Homo sapiens: one gene and its partner. Each later gene encodes a partner of the first gene's protein in a complex. Each region holds a gene or a part of one and is shown in the gene's direction. Other genes may lie near its edges.

Evidence for each region.
Region 2: SRSF1 (region 1) and PA2G4 share a complex: the UniProt entries of both Homo sapiens proteins name them as parts of the ribonucleoprotein complex.

What each region holds. Positions count from the first base shown.
Region 1 is NC_000017.11:57,999,375-58,003,769, reverse strand, and holds the end of SRSF1 (serine/arginine-rich splicing factor 1), read left to right. Parts: 3' UTR 1-2,851; downstream 2,852-4,395. UniProt on the Homo sapiens protein: Plays a role in preventing exon skipping, ensuring the accuracy of splicing and regulating alternative splicing.
Region 2 is NC_000012.12:56,107,139-56,115,398, forward strand, and holds the end of PA2G4 (proliferation-associated protein 2G4), read left to right. Parts: intron 1-48; coding exon 49-118; intron 119-382; coding exon 383-475; intron 476-2,091; coding exon 2,092-2,155; intron 2,156-2,718; coding exon 2,719-2,797; intron 2,798-3,260; coding exon 3,261-3,339; intron 3,340-3,420; coding exon 3,421-3,554; intron 3,555-3,825; coding exon 3,826-3,920; intron 3,921-4,043; coding exon 4,044-4,171; intron 4,172-4,337; coding exon 4,338-4,391; intron 4,392-5,684; coding exon 5,685-5,750; 3' UTR 5,751-6,772; downstream 6,773-8,260. UniProt on the Homo sapiens protein: May play a role in a ERBB3-regulated signal transduction pathway. Seems be involved in growth regulation. Acts a corepressor of the androgen receptor (AR) and is regulated by the ERBB3 ligand neuregulin-1/heregulin (HRG).

The sequences.
Region 1 (4,395 bases):
GGAGCCCTTAAGATGCACGATGGAATTGTGTTTTGCGTTTTTTGGTAAAAGGAGCAAAGCGAGGACCTGGAGATAAACGCTGGAGCAATCTCCTTGGAAGGATTCAGCACGAGTAGATGGTAAACATTTAAAGGGGAAAGGGGGGGTTTGTTTAAAATAGTAAATCAGTAAGTCACTTCTAAATTTAAAGAAAACAAAATTGGAGTTGAAGAATAAGTAGGTTTCCAATTGGCTATTGCCGTTTTCTTTGAAAAAATAAACATTTTTTAAAAAACTATGCATGGTTGTCCTTTTTCCTCTTCATGTAAGATTCTAACTGGGTCTATCAGTTAATCTTTAAATTGTTAAGTAAGATAAGATTTTGACTCTTGTGTTAATGTGTTAGCAAATTAAAAGTTCTTAAAAGGCAATCTAATGGTATTAGCCATCTTTTATTGTTAATTGTAAAAGTCTTCAGGGGAAAGCAAAAGGGGAGAATAAGGCATTTGTGTATGTAACTTGGTAAATGACGGTGGGGGATGGATCTAGCATCTGAAAGATAAGCTTCTCTACTTTGTTATAAAGTGGTTAAAAAACTATAGATGCTGCTTATTTTCTGGTGGTCATAGACAACATAGGCTTTTGTGCAAAATTGGTTGATGGCTACTAATGTTCACTTGGAGATAGCTTTTGATATTCTCAATGAAACTCATCTCAAAAAAAGGTAAGTATTAAATGTTAACATCAGCACAGATGTATTAGAACTGTTTTTTGTTTTTGAGACAGAGTCTCGCTCTGTTCTCCAGACTGGAGGGCAGTGGTGTGATCTAGGCTCACTGCAACCTCCACCCCTGGATTTGAGTGATTCTCGTGCCTCAGTCTCCCAAGTAGCTGAGACTACAAGTGTGTGCCACCCTTGCCCGGCTAATTTTGTATTTTTAGTAGAGATGTGGTTTCTCTGTGTTACCCAGGCTGGTCCCAAAACTCCTGGCCTCAAGTGATCTGCCTGCCTTGGCCTCCCAAAGTGTTAGGATTACAGGTGTGAGCCACCATGCTCAGCCTGTAGAACTTTTAACCCAAGTCTCATTTCTTTTTTGAAAGGGAAGAGTGCACAAGATTAACTGCTTCTTTGGATGAATCATTGTTAATAAAAAGCTGGGCATTTAGAATTTTGCCTTATAAGCCCTTCTCCAACCATAAGATTATTTTGTACCAAAAACTTTGGTGTTCTCTACCAAAGCAGTTAAAAACTTTTAGCCTGCTACTTCTTGTATTTGTCTACTGACAGCCCCTTGGTACTATTTAGGTTGGGGGAGGGGACCTAAAATAAATAGACTTTAACATTTCCCTTGGGTGCTAATCATAGTTGGAAGTTGAATTTAAGGTGATTATTTGGGTGACAATTAAAAACCTAAGGAAAACCAGAAATCTTGGTAGTGGAAGAAATGTGTAAGGTCACCCCAATCGGTAGATTTTAATGAACGTTGTGGAATGTTGGGAAGAGGGGATGTTAAGTTGAATGCAGAATTTCACTAAGTACTTAGTGTAAGTTTAAGGATGTAGCTCTTTTTATCTAAGAATTCAATGTAATGGCCAAAAGGCAGATTTACTGTTTAAAAATTTGAATAATTTTACATGACATTCTTGAAATTCTAAGAAGTTTTATGTGTAGAACATTTTAAAAATTCATCAGATTATTAAAGGGAAAATAAATGATTAATGATAATTTTGGAAGGTTAATGTGAGCTAGACTTAAGTAAACTTTGGTTCATTTGTGTTCATTGAATGTTTTGGAAATGACCAAAAAATGTAAATGGCCTTCACTCAAGTTTGAGTGTTTAAAGTTGAAAGATGTGCTCTACTAAAAGTTATAGTAATTCTAACCTCACATTGAAATGAGACAGTATTCCTTGTTATACAGGCTGAATTTGAAGATTAGAGAGGATCTAATGTTTACTTAGGTAAAGGGGCATAGGTTTTGTAGTTAAGATGACCAGACAGCTAAAAGCTGTGATGGGAAGTATGGACTGCTCCTATTTATAGTCTCAGAAAATGGACCTTTAGGTCTCTATCCGTATTGGCAATTATTAGAAGAAAGTTACACCCTTTTGAAACTACAAAAGCTGTCTTGGAATTTCCCCCTCTTCTCCCTATTTATGTCCCCTTAGAATATTTTAGGGAGCCTATAATTATTTTCTAACCAAGGAAAAACTTAAGTCTCTTTAAGAAGCAATTACTTTTCATAACATCAGATTGAATAACCCACCTTGCTGTTCAGCCCACATCCTACTGGAAACAAAAGGTAAGAAACCCATTTTCTGGTTCTTGATTGTTTGGGTCTGAATTTTGTTTTTAAAACTAAGCTAAGTTTAATGTTTTTTAAAATGCTGTTTGGAATATGAATAGATTCCCCGTAAAATGATTTTTCCTAAGTTTTATGCTTTAGTAAATATTCAGTGCTCACGTCTGTGCATCATAGTGCTTGCGTTTAATATGATTTATTGTAGAATCTCAACTTTTCTTGGTGTTTGTTGTCTTTGAAACATTGTCTTGGTCATTAGGGCTGGTGTTTTCACATTTCTGTGGTCAAGGTGGATTTCTTATGTGTGCCTTTTTGCTTACTTTGTATATGAATTTTGTAATTTAAATTGCAAGTAAGTTATATATATGTATTTACCATAAATAGTATTAAAAGATGAGAAACTGTTAGACTGAAGTTCTGTTGTAACATAACCATTATTTCCATCACAGTATGAAGACTGCAAACGCAGAAAACAGATTACAGTCTCTTATCCATTTTTTGAAATCCAAAAACTACGAAAACAAAAGATTTTCTGTTGTTGAGCTAATTAAATGTGAACCCTGACCAGAATTGCTGCCTTCATTTTGCACTTAGTGTGACTAAACTGTTTCCTGTTGAACTTCATTATTCATTGCACAGTTGCCACAGACTTTGCTGAGGGTTTTATGTAATACAGGGTATATATGTACCTCATAAAGTGCATACAGCTCTGAATCCCAGATATGTCTGTCTCCAAAGAGTTCATATAAGGGATTGTAGGAACTGTACTAGCATACACAGGCCTAATGCTTTTGTCTGTAACTGGGGTGTCTTGACTGAAAAACCTGTTATTGTGAATCCTTTGTTGATTGAATTTTAAGTTCCCCCATCTTTTTAGGCTGAAGCAGCCACAAGAAAAAAAGGTATGGCCCACATTTCTTTACATTCTGTTGTAATAGTGGACTCAACAATTATATCCCATTGAAGCAAATACTCAGGCATCCTAGAGTGTACAATACAACATTCTTTTGAGTTATTGTTTCTGTATCAGTACTTAAAGGAACATTGACCAATTAGATCCTATAGGAAAAGCTGGGATTGGCATGAAGTAAAGAGATTATCAGGAAACATCTGTTCATTATGTCTATCGTGATTGTCTATTGAATGAATAGTAATGCTGCCAAAAGTAACTTGCTTTAAACAAACCCCAAGAGATTATAGTATACTTAAACCAGTACTTATTCCTGTTATTGAGACCTTCACGGTGCTTCTTGGTAGCTTTGAAAGCTAATGCCTAACAACCCTGAGGGTTCTTGTGAGCTTGTAGTGATTAAAGGAAGGATTTTTTAATTATTATAAAAATCACTCCGTGCTTCATTAATGCACAGAATAAAAATTGAATAAATGACTCTGTCATATAGAAGTTAATTTAGGCAAATATAACATTTGTAATTTACAACATTTTAATAGGTGCTAGGCTGGGATTTCAGGGGGTGAAAAGTCATTCATGACTTTTCATAAGAAGTTTACTGTTTAGGTAAGCAAAACAACACTTAGTTCAGCTTGATACTCAAGCATCGGGTTAAAAAGCATCAGACTTCTGTTACCAGACAACTTATAAGTGCCAACTATTGGTAGAACTGTGGACATGAAGATAGTGGAAACAGCTTCTCTAGGATGCTATACTCATCTCCACCAAATGCACTTTGAACAAAAACAACTTGTAGAAATAGGTCTTAATTTTTTTTGTTTGTTTGTTTGGTTTTTTTACAACATGCTGTACTGCTCTCCATTGGTAAGTGCTAGGGAAAATCACTTAGCCACTAGAGGGAGCTATAACACAAAATTAAGCAGGAAATAATCCCCATTATAGATACATAGAACAAAGTAGAGACCAGCTAACTACCTTGATCCTCTGTATCAGCTCTAAAGTTAGATGGTTTGGGTAAGTTTTCTTGCAACTTTACCTTTGTCTTCCCATCTTTTGTGTAAAATTCTTCCCCTTTTCAGCTTTTGCATCCATTTAGGTTTTCAGAGTTTACCTTACAGGCACTCATTTTGTAACAAATCTAGGTTCTGGGACTAAGAAAATACTGAAGACATAAGTCTGCTTGTTTTTCTGCCTACCTTGTACA
Region 2 (8,260 bases), on another chromosome or scaffold:
TTTACAAAATGCCAGTTCCTAATGCAGTACTCTGATCTTGCCTTTCAGTGACCTTGGGGTCCATGTGGATGGCTTCATCGCTAATGTAGCTCACACTTTTGTGGTTGATGTAGCTCAGGTAGGTGGCCTGCTTTTGATCTCTGTTTAGCCTTGGGGTAGAGGGAATGCACTGCCATTTGCTTCTTATCCCCACCCCCAATCACCACGTAAGTTGAGAGAGTCTCTAGAGAAGCAAAAGGAGAAAGGTTTTTGTTGTTGTTGTTGTTTTTACCCTCCTGTTCATTGGCTGGTCTTCGCATATGGGCTCACAGATATTAACCAGATAGCCAGCTGAGTTAACAGACTTTCCAGGAAGATACTGATTGCATGTCCTTATCTACAGGGGACCCAAGTAACAGGGAGGAAAGCAGATGTTATTAAGGCAGCTCACCTTTGTGCTGAAGCTGCCCTACGCCTGGTCAAACCTGGAAATCAGGTAAGCTATTTTATCCAATTCCAAAGCTCGTTTGAACCAAAGATGCATTAGGCACCTATAGCTACTCTATATGAAACTACCAACCTCCCCTACAGACCCCTTATAAAACAGCTTTTTAAAATTAGCTATATTTAGCTGGGCACAGTGACTCACATCTGTAATCCCATCACTTTGGGGGGCCAAGGTAGGAGGATAGCTTGAGGCTGGGAGTTCAAGACCAGCCTGGGAAACATGGTGAAACCCCATTTCTACAAAAAATACAAAAATTAGCTGGGCGTGGTAACATGTGCCTGTATTCCCAGCTTCCAGGGAGGCTGAGGTGGGAGAATCACCTGAGCCTGGGAGATTGAGGCTGTGCTGAGCTATGATCATGCCACTGCACTCCAGCCTGGGCAACAATGAAACCCTGTCTCACAAAAGAAAAAGGAAAAATAAGCATTTGCTGTCCCCACAAAACAGATTAGAATGCCAGGTAAAAAAGGATAAACACTGGACTTAATATTATAGGCATGTGGTGGCACATGCCTGTAATCCCAGCACTTTGGGAGGCCAAGGTGGGAGGATTGCTTGAACCCAGGCATTTGAGACCAGCTTGGGAAACATAGCGAGACCCGTCTACAAAAAGAAAAAAGAAAACCCAGGTTTATGACCAAGTTCTTTCACTTAACACTCATTTAACCTGGGGCAAATCATTTAACCTGAGACTCAGTTTCCTTGTCTTCTAGATTGGGATATACATCTGCCCTGTTCACATGCAAAATTTATTGAGTTAGACCATCTTTGTGAAAGCACTGGGTAAAATGATATGCAGTTACAGCTGGTCCTCAGCTTGATGCTACATTCAGTAGAAGCTATACTTTGAGTACCCATACAACCATTCTGTTTTTCATTTTCCATATAGTATTTAGTAAATTACATGAGATATTCAACACTAATATAAAATAGGCATGTGTTAGATAATTCTGCCCAACTGTAGGATAATGTTTTTTAAGTGCTCTGAGCACATTTAACATAGGCTAGGCTGTGATGTTAGGTAGGTTAGGGGTATTAAATGCATTTTTGACTTAGTGATATTTTCAACTTATGAGTTTTTTGGAGATGTAACCCCATTGCAAGTTGGGGAGCATCTGTATAAAGTATTTTTAGATTGTAGGGATAATCAAGCTATGAAATGAAAAACCAGTGAATGACAATCATTGGGGCTTGATGGAGGATATTAGAACGCTCAGTTCTGCCAGGTGCAATGGCTCATGCCTGTAATCCCAGCACTTTGGGAGGCTGAGGTGGGCAGATCACGAGGTCAGGAGATCGAGACCATCCTGGCCAACATGGTGAAACCCCGTCTCTTCTAAAAATACAAAAATTAGCTGGGCGTGGTGTTGCGTGCCTGTAATCCCAGCTACTCAGGAGGCTGAGGCAGGAGAATAGCTTGAACCCGGGAGGCAGAGATTGCAGTGAGCCAAGATCACGCCACTGCACTCCAGCCTGGTGACAAAGCCAGACTCCATCTCAAAAAAAAAAAAAAAAACGCTCAGTTCTTTTATGCTTCTTATTCTCATTGTAGAGAACTTATTAGCTCCTGATATCTCACCTTTCATTTGATGTTGTACTTCTAGAACACACAAGTGACAGAAGCCTGGAACAAAGTTGCCCACTCATTTAACTGCACGCCAATAGAAGGTGAGAACAGATAACAGGGTTGAGGGTCTAAGAATGAGTGGCTTTGCCAGGTGCGGTGGCTCACGCCTGTAATCCCAGAACTTTGGGAGGCTGAGGTGGGCGGATCACCTGAGGTCAGGAGTTTGAGACTAGCCTGGCCAACATGGTGAAACCCCGTCTCTACTAAAAATATAAAAATTAGCTGGGCGTGGTGGTGGGTGCCTGTAATCCCAGCTACTTGGGAGGCTAAGGCGAGATAATCGCTTGAACCCGGGAGGAGGAGGTTGCAGTGAGCCAAGATTGCGCCACTGCACTCCAGTCTGGGCAATAAGAGCGAAACTCCATCTCCTCCATCTCAAAAAAAAAAAAAAAAAGAATGAGTGGCTTTGCAGAATTGAGGCTTTTGCTCCCTTGAAGATCTATCCTGGCTATAACCCAGTCTAAGCCAGAAATCTCAGAGCCCTGTGTTTCCATAACCAGGTAGTTGTCTCACTGCCTACCACTTCAAACTACTGAAGTGGGTGGATTTGGAAACCTTTTGGGATACTGGATAGCTTGTTCCATAGGTTGTGTACTATCTACAGGTATGCTGTCACACCAGTTGAAGCAGCATGTCATCGATGGAGAAAAAACCATTATCCAGAATCCCACAGACCAGCAGAAGTAGGTGCCAACCCTACTTATTACCTTCTACCACACAAGACTAGTCATCAGGTTTTTTTCTATACTCCCAACTGAATCTTGTCCGCCCTCTACTCCATGTTTTCAGGAGTGACCTGTTGCTCTTAATATTCCCTTTCTCTAGGCCGGGCGCGGTGGCTCACGCCTGTAATCCCAGCACTTTGGGAGGCTGAGGCGGGTGGATCACCTGAGGTCACGAGTTCAGAACCAGCCTAACCAACATGGCGAAACCCTGTCTCTACTAAAAACTACAAAAATGAGCCAGGCCTGGTGGTTTGTGCCTATAGTCCCAGCTACTTGGGAGGCTGAGGCAGGAGAGTTGCTTGGACCCGGGAGGTGGAGGTTGCAGTGAGCTGAGATTGTGCCACTGCACTCCAGCCTGGGTGACAGAATGAGACTCTGTGTCAAAAAAAAAAAAAAATTCCTTTCTCTCTATTCCTTTTAGGAAGGACCATGAAAAAGCTGAATTTGAGGTACATGAAGTATATGCTGTGGATGTTCTCGTCAGCTCAGGAGAGGGCAAGGTGAGGAGAGTACCAGAGTTGGCAAAGAGGGGTGACTGAGAGTGTTCACCAGACCAAATGTTACTTAAATTACTCTTTCAGGCCAAGGATGCAGGACAGAGAACCACTATTTACAAACGAGACCCCTCTAAACAGTATGGACTGAAAATGAAAACTTCACGTGCCTTCTTCAGTGAGGTGGAAAGGCGTTTTGATGCCATGCCGTTTACTTTAAGGTACTAAGCAATGATAGTACTTGGAACCAGTCTGACTCACAGACCATACACCCAGGAACACTTTTTCCTCTCCCTTCCTGCCTAGACTTGTAGCGTGCATGTGCTCACTCCCTCCCTCTCTCTCCCCATCTCCTTCTCATTGAAGGTAATGTAAAAGAGCAATCCTAAGCATGATTTCTGCCTGAGGGTAGGAGCTATTTTAAAATATGAGCAAAATGGTAAGACTTGATGGGGAGTTAAAGATACCTCTGAATATCATCTTCCCTGCCAGAGCATTTGAAGATGAGAAGAAGGCTCGGATGGGTGTGGTGGAGTGCGCCAAACATGAACTGCTGCAACCATTTAATGTTCTCTATGAGAAGGAGGGTGAGTTCCAAAAAGAGCTTCACTTTGGATTCCCTGATTATAAGATATCCTTCCTGTAAGTTCAGAAGAGCTAAGTATGACAAAGGAACTTTTTATCAAAACACATCTTCATTTTTGCCATAGGTGAATTTGTTGCCCAGTTTAAATTTACAGTTCTGCTCATGCCCAATGGCCCCATGCGGATAACCAGTGGTCCCTTCGAGCCTGACCTCTACAAGTCTGAGATGGAGGTCCAGGATGCAGAGCTAAAGGTTAGTATGGAATAGAAGGTGGTGAGTATGTACATGGTATCCTGCTTGGGAGTGAGGGCTAAATGCCAGCAAAGTCCTGAAAAGAGCTGCAGTACTGAAAGTAACCCTTTATTTTTAATTTCCTCCACATTTCTCAAAATTTTTTTCCCTTCTTCCTGTTTTCCAGGCCCTCCTCCAGAGTTCTGCAAGTCGAAAAACCCAGAAAAAGAAAAAAAAGAAGGTGTGTTATTAACGATCATTCCTCTCTGGCAGGGTGAACCTGATCCCTCTTTCTCCCACTGTGTTAAGTTGTAGTGAAATACGGATTTTTATACAGATGCTCCTCAACTTATATGATAGAACTTTGTCCCAGTAAACCCATCATAAATTGAAAATACTGTAAGTCAAAATGGATTTTAAAATATATATATATATATTTTAAGAGACAGAGTCTCAAACTCCTGGCCTTGAACAGTCCTTCCACCTCAGCCTCCCAAACTGTTGGGATTACAGGCATGAGCTGCCATGCCCAGCCTTGCTTTGGCCGGGCACAGTGGCTCATGCCTGTAATCCCAGCACTTTGGGAGGCTAAGGCGGATGGATCACCTGAGGTCAGGAGTTTGAGATCAGCCTGACCAACACAGAGAGAAACCCCGTCTCTACTAAAAATACAAAATTAGCTGGGTGTGGTGGCACACGCTTATAATCCCAGCTACTCGGGAGGCTAAGGCAGGAGAATTGTTTGAATCTGGGAGGCAGAGGTTGCAGTGGGCCGAGATCGCACCATTGCGCTCCGGCCTGCGCAACAAGAGCGAAACTCTGTCTCCAAAAAAGAGATGATCTCACTGTGTCACCCAGGCTGACGTGTAGAGGCATGATCATAGCTCACTGTATCCTCAAACTCCTCCTGGGTTCAAGTGATTGTCCTGCCTTGACCTGCTGAGTAGCCACCACCATGCCTGGCTCAAAATGGATTTGATGTACCTTAACCTACCATGAACCTCATAGCTTAGCCTGGCCTACCTTGAATGTGCTCAAAACATTTATTGAACAAATTATCATGTATCGAAATATCCATATTGCTTTCACGCCATTGTGAAGTTGAAAAATCACAAGTTGACCATTGTAAGTCAGAGACCTGTATGTCTTTATTTCAGCTGTGACCCAGAGGATTGAGATAACTTTATGGCTGGGTGTGGTGGTTCACACATATAATCCCAACAGTTTGGGAGGCCTAGGCAGGAGCATCACTTGAGCCCAGGAGTTCAAGATCAGCCCGGGCAACATGGTGAAACCTCATCTCTACAAAAAATACAAAAAAGTTGTACATGGTGGCATATGCCTATAGTCCCAGCTACCTGGGAGGCTGAGGTGAGAGGATCACCTGAGCCCAGGGAAGTGGTACCACTGCACTCCAGCCTGGAAAACAGAGTGAGACTGTCTCAGAAAAAAAAATACTTTTATCTCTGGTCCCAGACATCCCCAAGTAGTTAGAAACTGACAGGTCTTCTCCCTCTCCTTTTCTTGCATATAGGCCTCCAAGACTGCAGAGAATGCCACCAGTGGGGAAACATTAGAAGAAAATGAAGCTGGGGACTGAGGTGGGTCCCATCTCCCCAGCTTGCTGCTCCTGCCTCATCCCCTTCCCACCAAACCCCAGACTCTGTGAAGTGCAGTTCTTCTCCACCTAGGACCGCCAGCAGAGCGGGGGGATCTCCCTGCCCCCACCCCAGTTCCCCAACCCACTCCCTTCCAACAACAACCAGCTCCAACTGACTCTGGTCTTGGGAGGTGAGGCTTCCCAACCACGGAAGACTACTTTAAATGAAAAAAAGAAATTGAATAATAAAATCAGGAGTCAAAATTCATCGTCTTCAAGCCCCTCTTTCTAGCCTTTTCTACTACTCTCTGCTTGGTCAAGGTTTGTGCCCCACTACAGAACAGGGCTAAATTAGCCACCACCACTGAAAACTCAGCCGAATTTTTTTATACCACTCTGATGTCAGCATTTTTTCCATCTGTTTGGGGCTTTTTCCTCTTTTTTCCATTCTCCCCAAATATTTTATCTGGCTTCAAAATTAAGAGGATTATTTTTCAGATTGTTTTTATTCAGTGTGGCCGATTCCTCATCTGATTCAGGCTGTCCAGTCAGGCCCCTCCCATTTTAGGAGCTGGAGCCTTCATTTATGAAGAGATTCTCATCTATGAAATGGATCCTCATTTGTAAATCTTTTTTCTTCCATTTTCACAAAGCTGTAAAGAAATAATCCATCTCAACCTTACCCTTTTTCTCTGGAGTCAGTGGGGTCTTTCCTCGCTCCATCTTACACAGACCTGAGCTGGAAGCTCAACTGGTTTTGTTCCCTGTTTGAAATATTGTGATCTCCCTCCCATGAAAGAAAAACCAAGAACCAGAGGCGTAGACTGACTGAAGACACAACTCCTGGCTTTCTGAAGCTATGGACTTGGATTGGATTGCTGGGGGTTTGTAGAGAAAGGTGACAAATTTCAGTACCTCTGGCATGCTGTCCCAGGAAACTAGGGCTCCCACTAACTTATGAGGTTTTTAAACACATTGAAAATGACATGACATTAAAATAAATTTGGATTTGCTCATAATGATGTGCTTTGTATGCTGCTCTTGTTTGATGGAGGTGGGGAGAATGTCAGTTGAAGTGGTATTGGAACTGTTCCTCCACAGTGCCATGCTCTACCTTCCCAAAACGAGGAATGTCTTGACTTGCAGAAGACACAAATCTTAGAATCTTTGATGATATAGTAATCTGCTGGAGTTGGGTGGTGTAATTTTCTAAGTAGAAACAGTCCTCACTGCTAAGATTTGTTTGGGGCTAGGACACAATGTCTACTGCAAAAACAGTACTGCAAGTGTTTATCTTGAATTCAAGAAGCCAGGAAGAATGGTACACTAGTTTTCAGGGCCAGACTAAGGTCAGATGGGTAATTAGTTTATCTTACTACATGTCAGGAATTGCTAAACTAGAGATACTACAAGTGAACAGAACTGAACACAGGTCAAATGTGTAATGATGTATATCTACCATTAAAATAGAGTAGTTTTAGTGCCCTAAAAATCCTCTGTGTTTTGCCTGTTCATCTCTCTCTCCTTGCTTACGCATTTGTCCAAAGGCAAAGAATGTACAATGCCAATGCCAAGAGTGAACCCTAGTGTAAACTAAACTATGGATTTGGGGTGATAATGGTATATCAACGTAGGTTCTATTGTTAACAAATGTACCACTCTGGCAGGGTGGAGTGATGTTTATAAAGGGGGAGGCTATATGTGTGGGAAATGTCTATACCTTTCTCAATTTTGCTGTGAACCTAAAACTGTTCTAAAAAATTAAGTCTATTAAAAAAAGAAAAAAACAGCCAAGTGCGGTGGCTTATACCTGTAATTCCAGCACTTTGGGAGGCCGACGCAGGCAGATCACCTGAGGTCAGGAGATCAAGACCAGCCTGGCCAACATGGTGAAACCCCATCTCTACTAAAAATATAAAAAGCCAGGCTTAGTGGCGGGCGCCTGTAATCCCAGCTACTTGGGAGGCTGAGGCAGGAGAATCGCTTGAACCCAGGAGGCGGAGGTTGCAGTGAGCCAAGATCGCGCCACTGCACTCCAGCCTGGGTGACAGGAGTGAGATTCCATTCCGTATCAAAAACAAGCAAACAAAATTTCCCTCAAAGAGCTTATAAACTAGTTGGCAATCATCAGTTGAAATCTTGGTGGAACTGATACAAAATAATTCTGCTAGGATTTTTTTTGTTTCAAAAAAATTGTCATATATATTTGGGTGGTGACAATACTACAACTACTTAGAAGGAACCTAATTTTAAAAACGTTTTTCAGGGATTGAAAGTGAAATGCTATCCTGGAATATAATAAAGGGAAACCACAAAAAAAGAGGGATTGTAACAATCACATACAAAATGTTACAGTATTTTAAAACTGTAAGATGAAGTCTCTATAGGGAAAGGGTTCTTTTTCATCCCCCATTAACTCAAAAGTTTCCTGTAGCCAAATCTTAGGGGATCTGGTTGTTTTCCAGTGCTTCTCACCTGAGCATACAATCAAACTGGGAAGTTCTTTATCT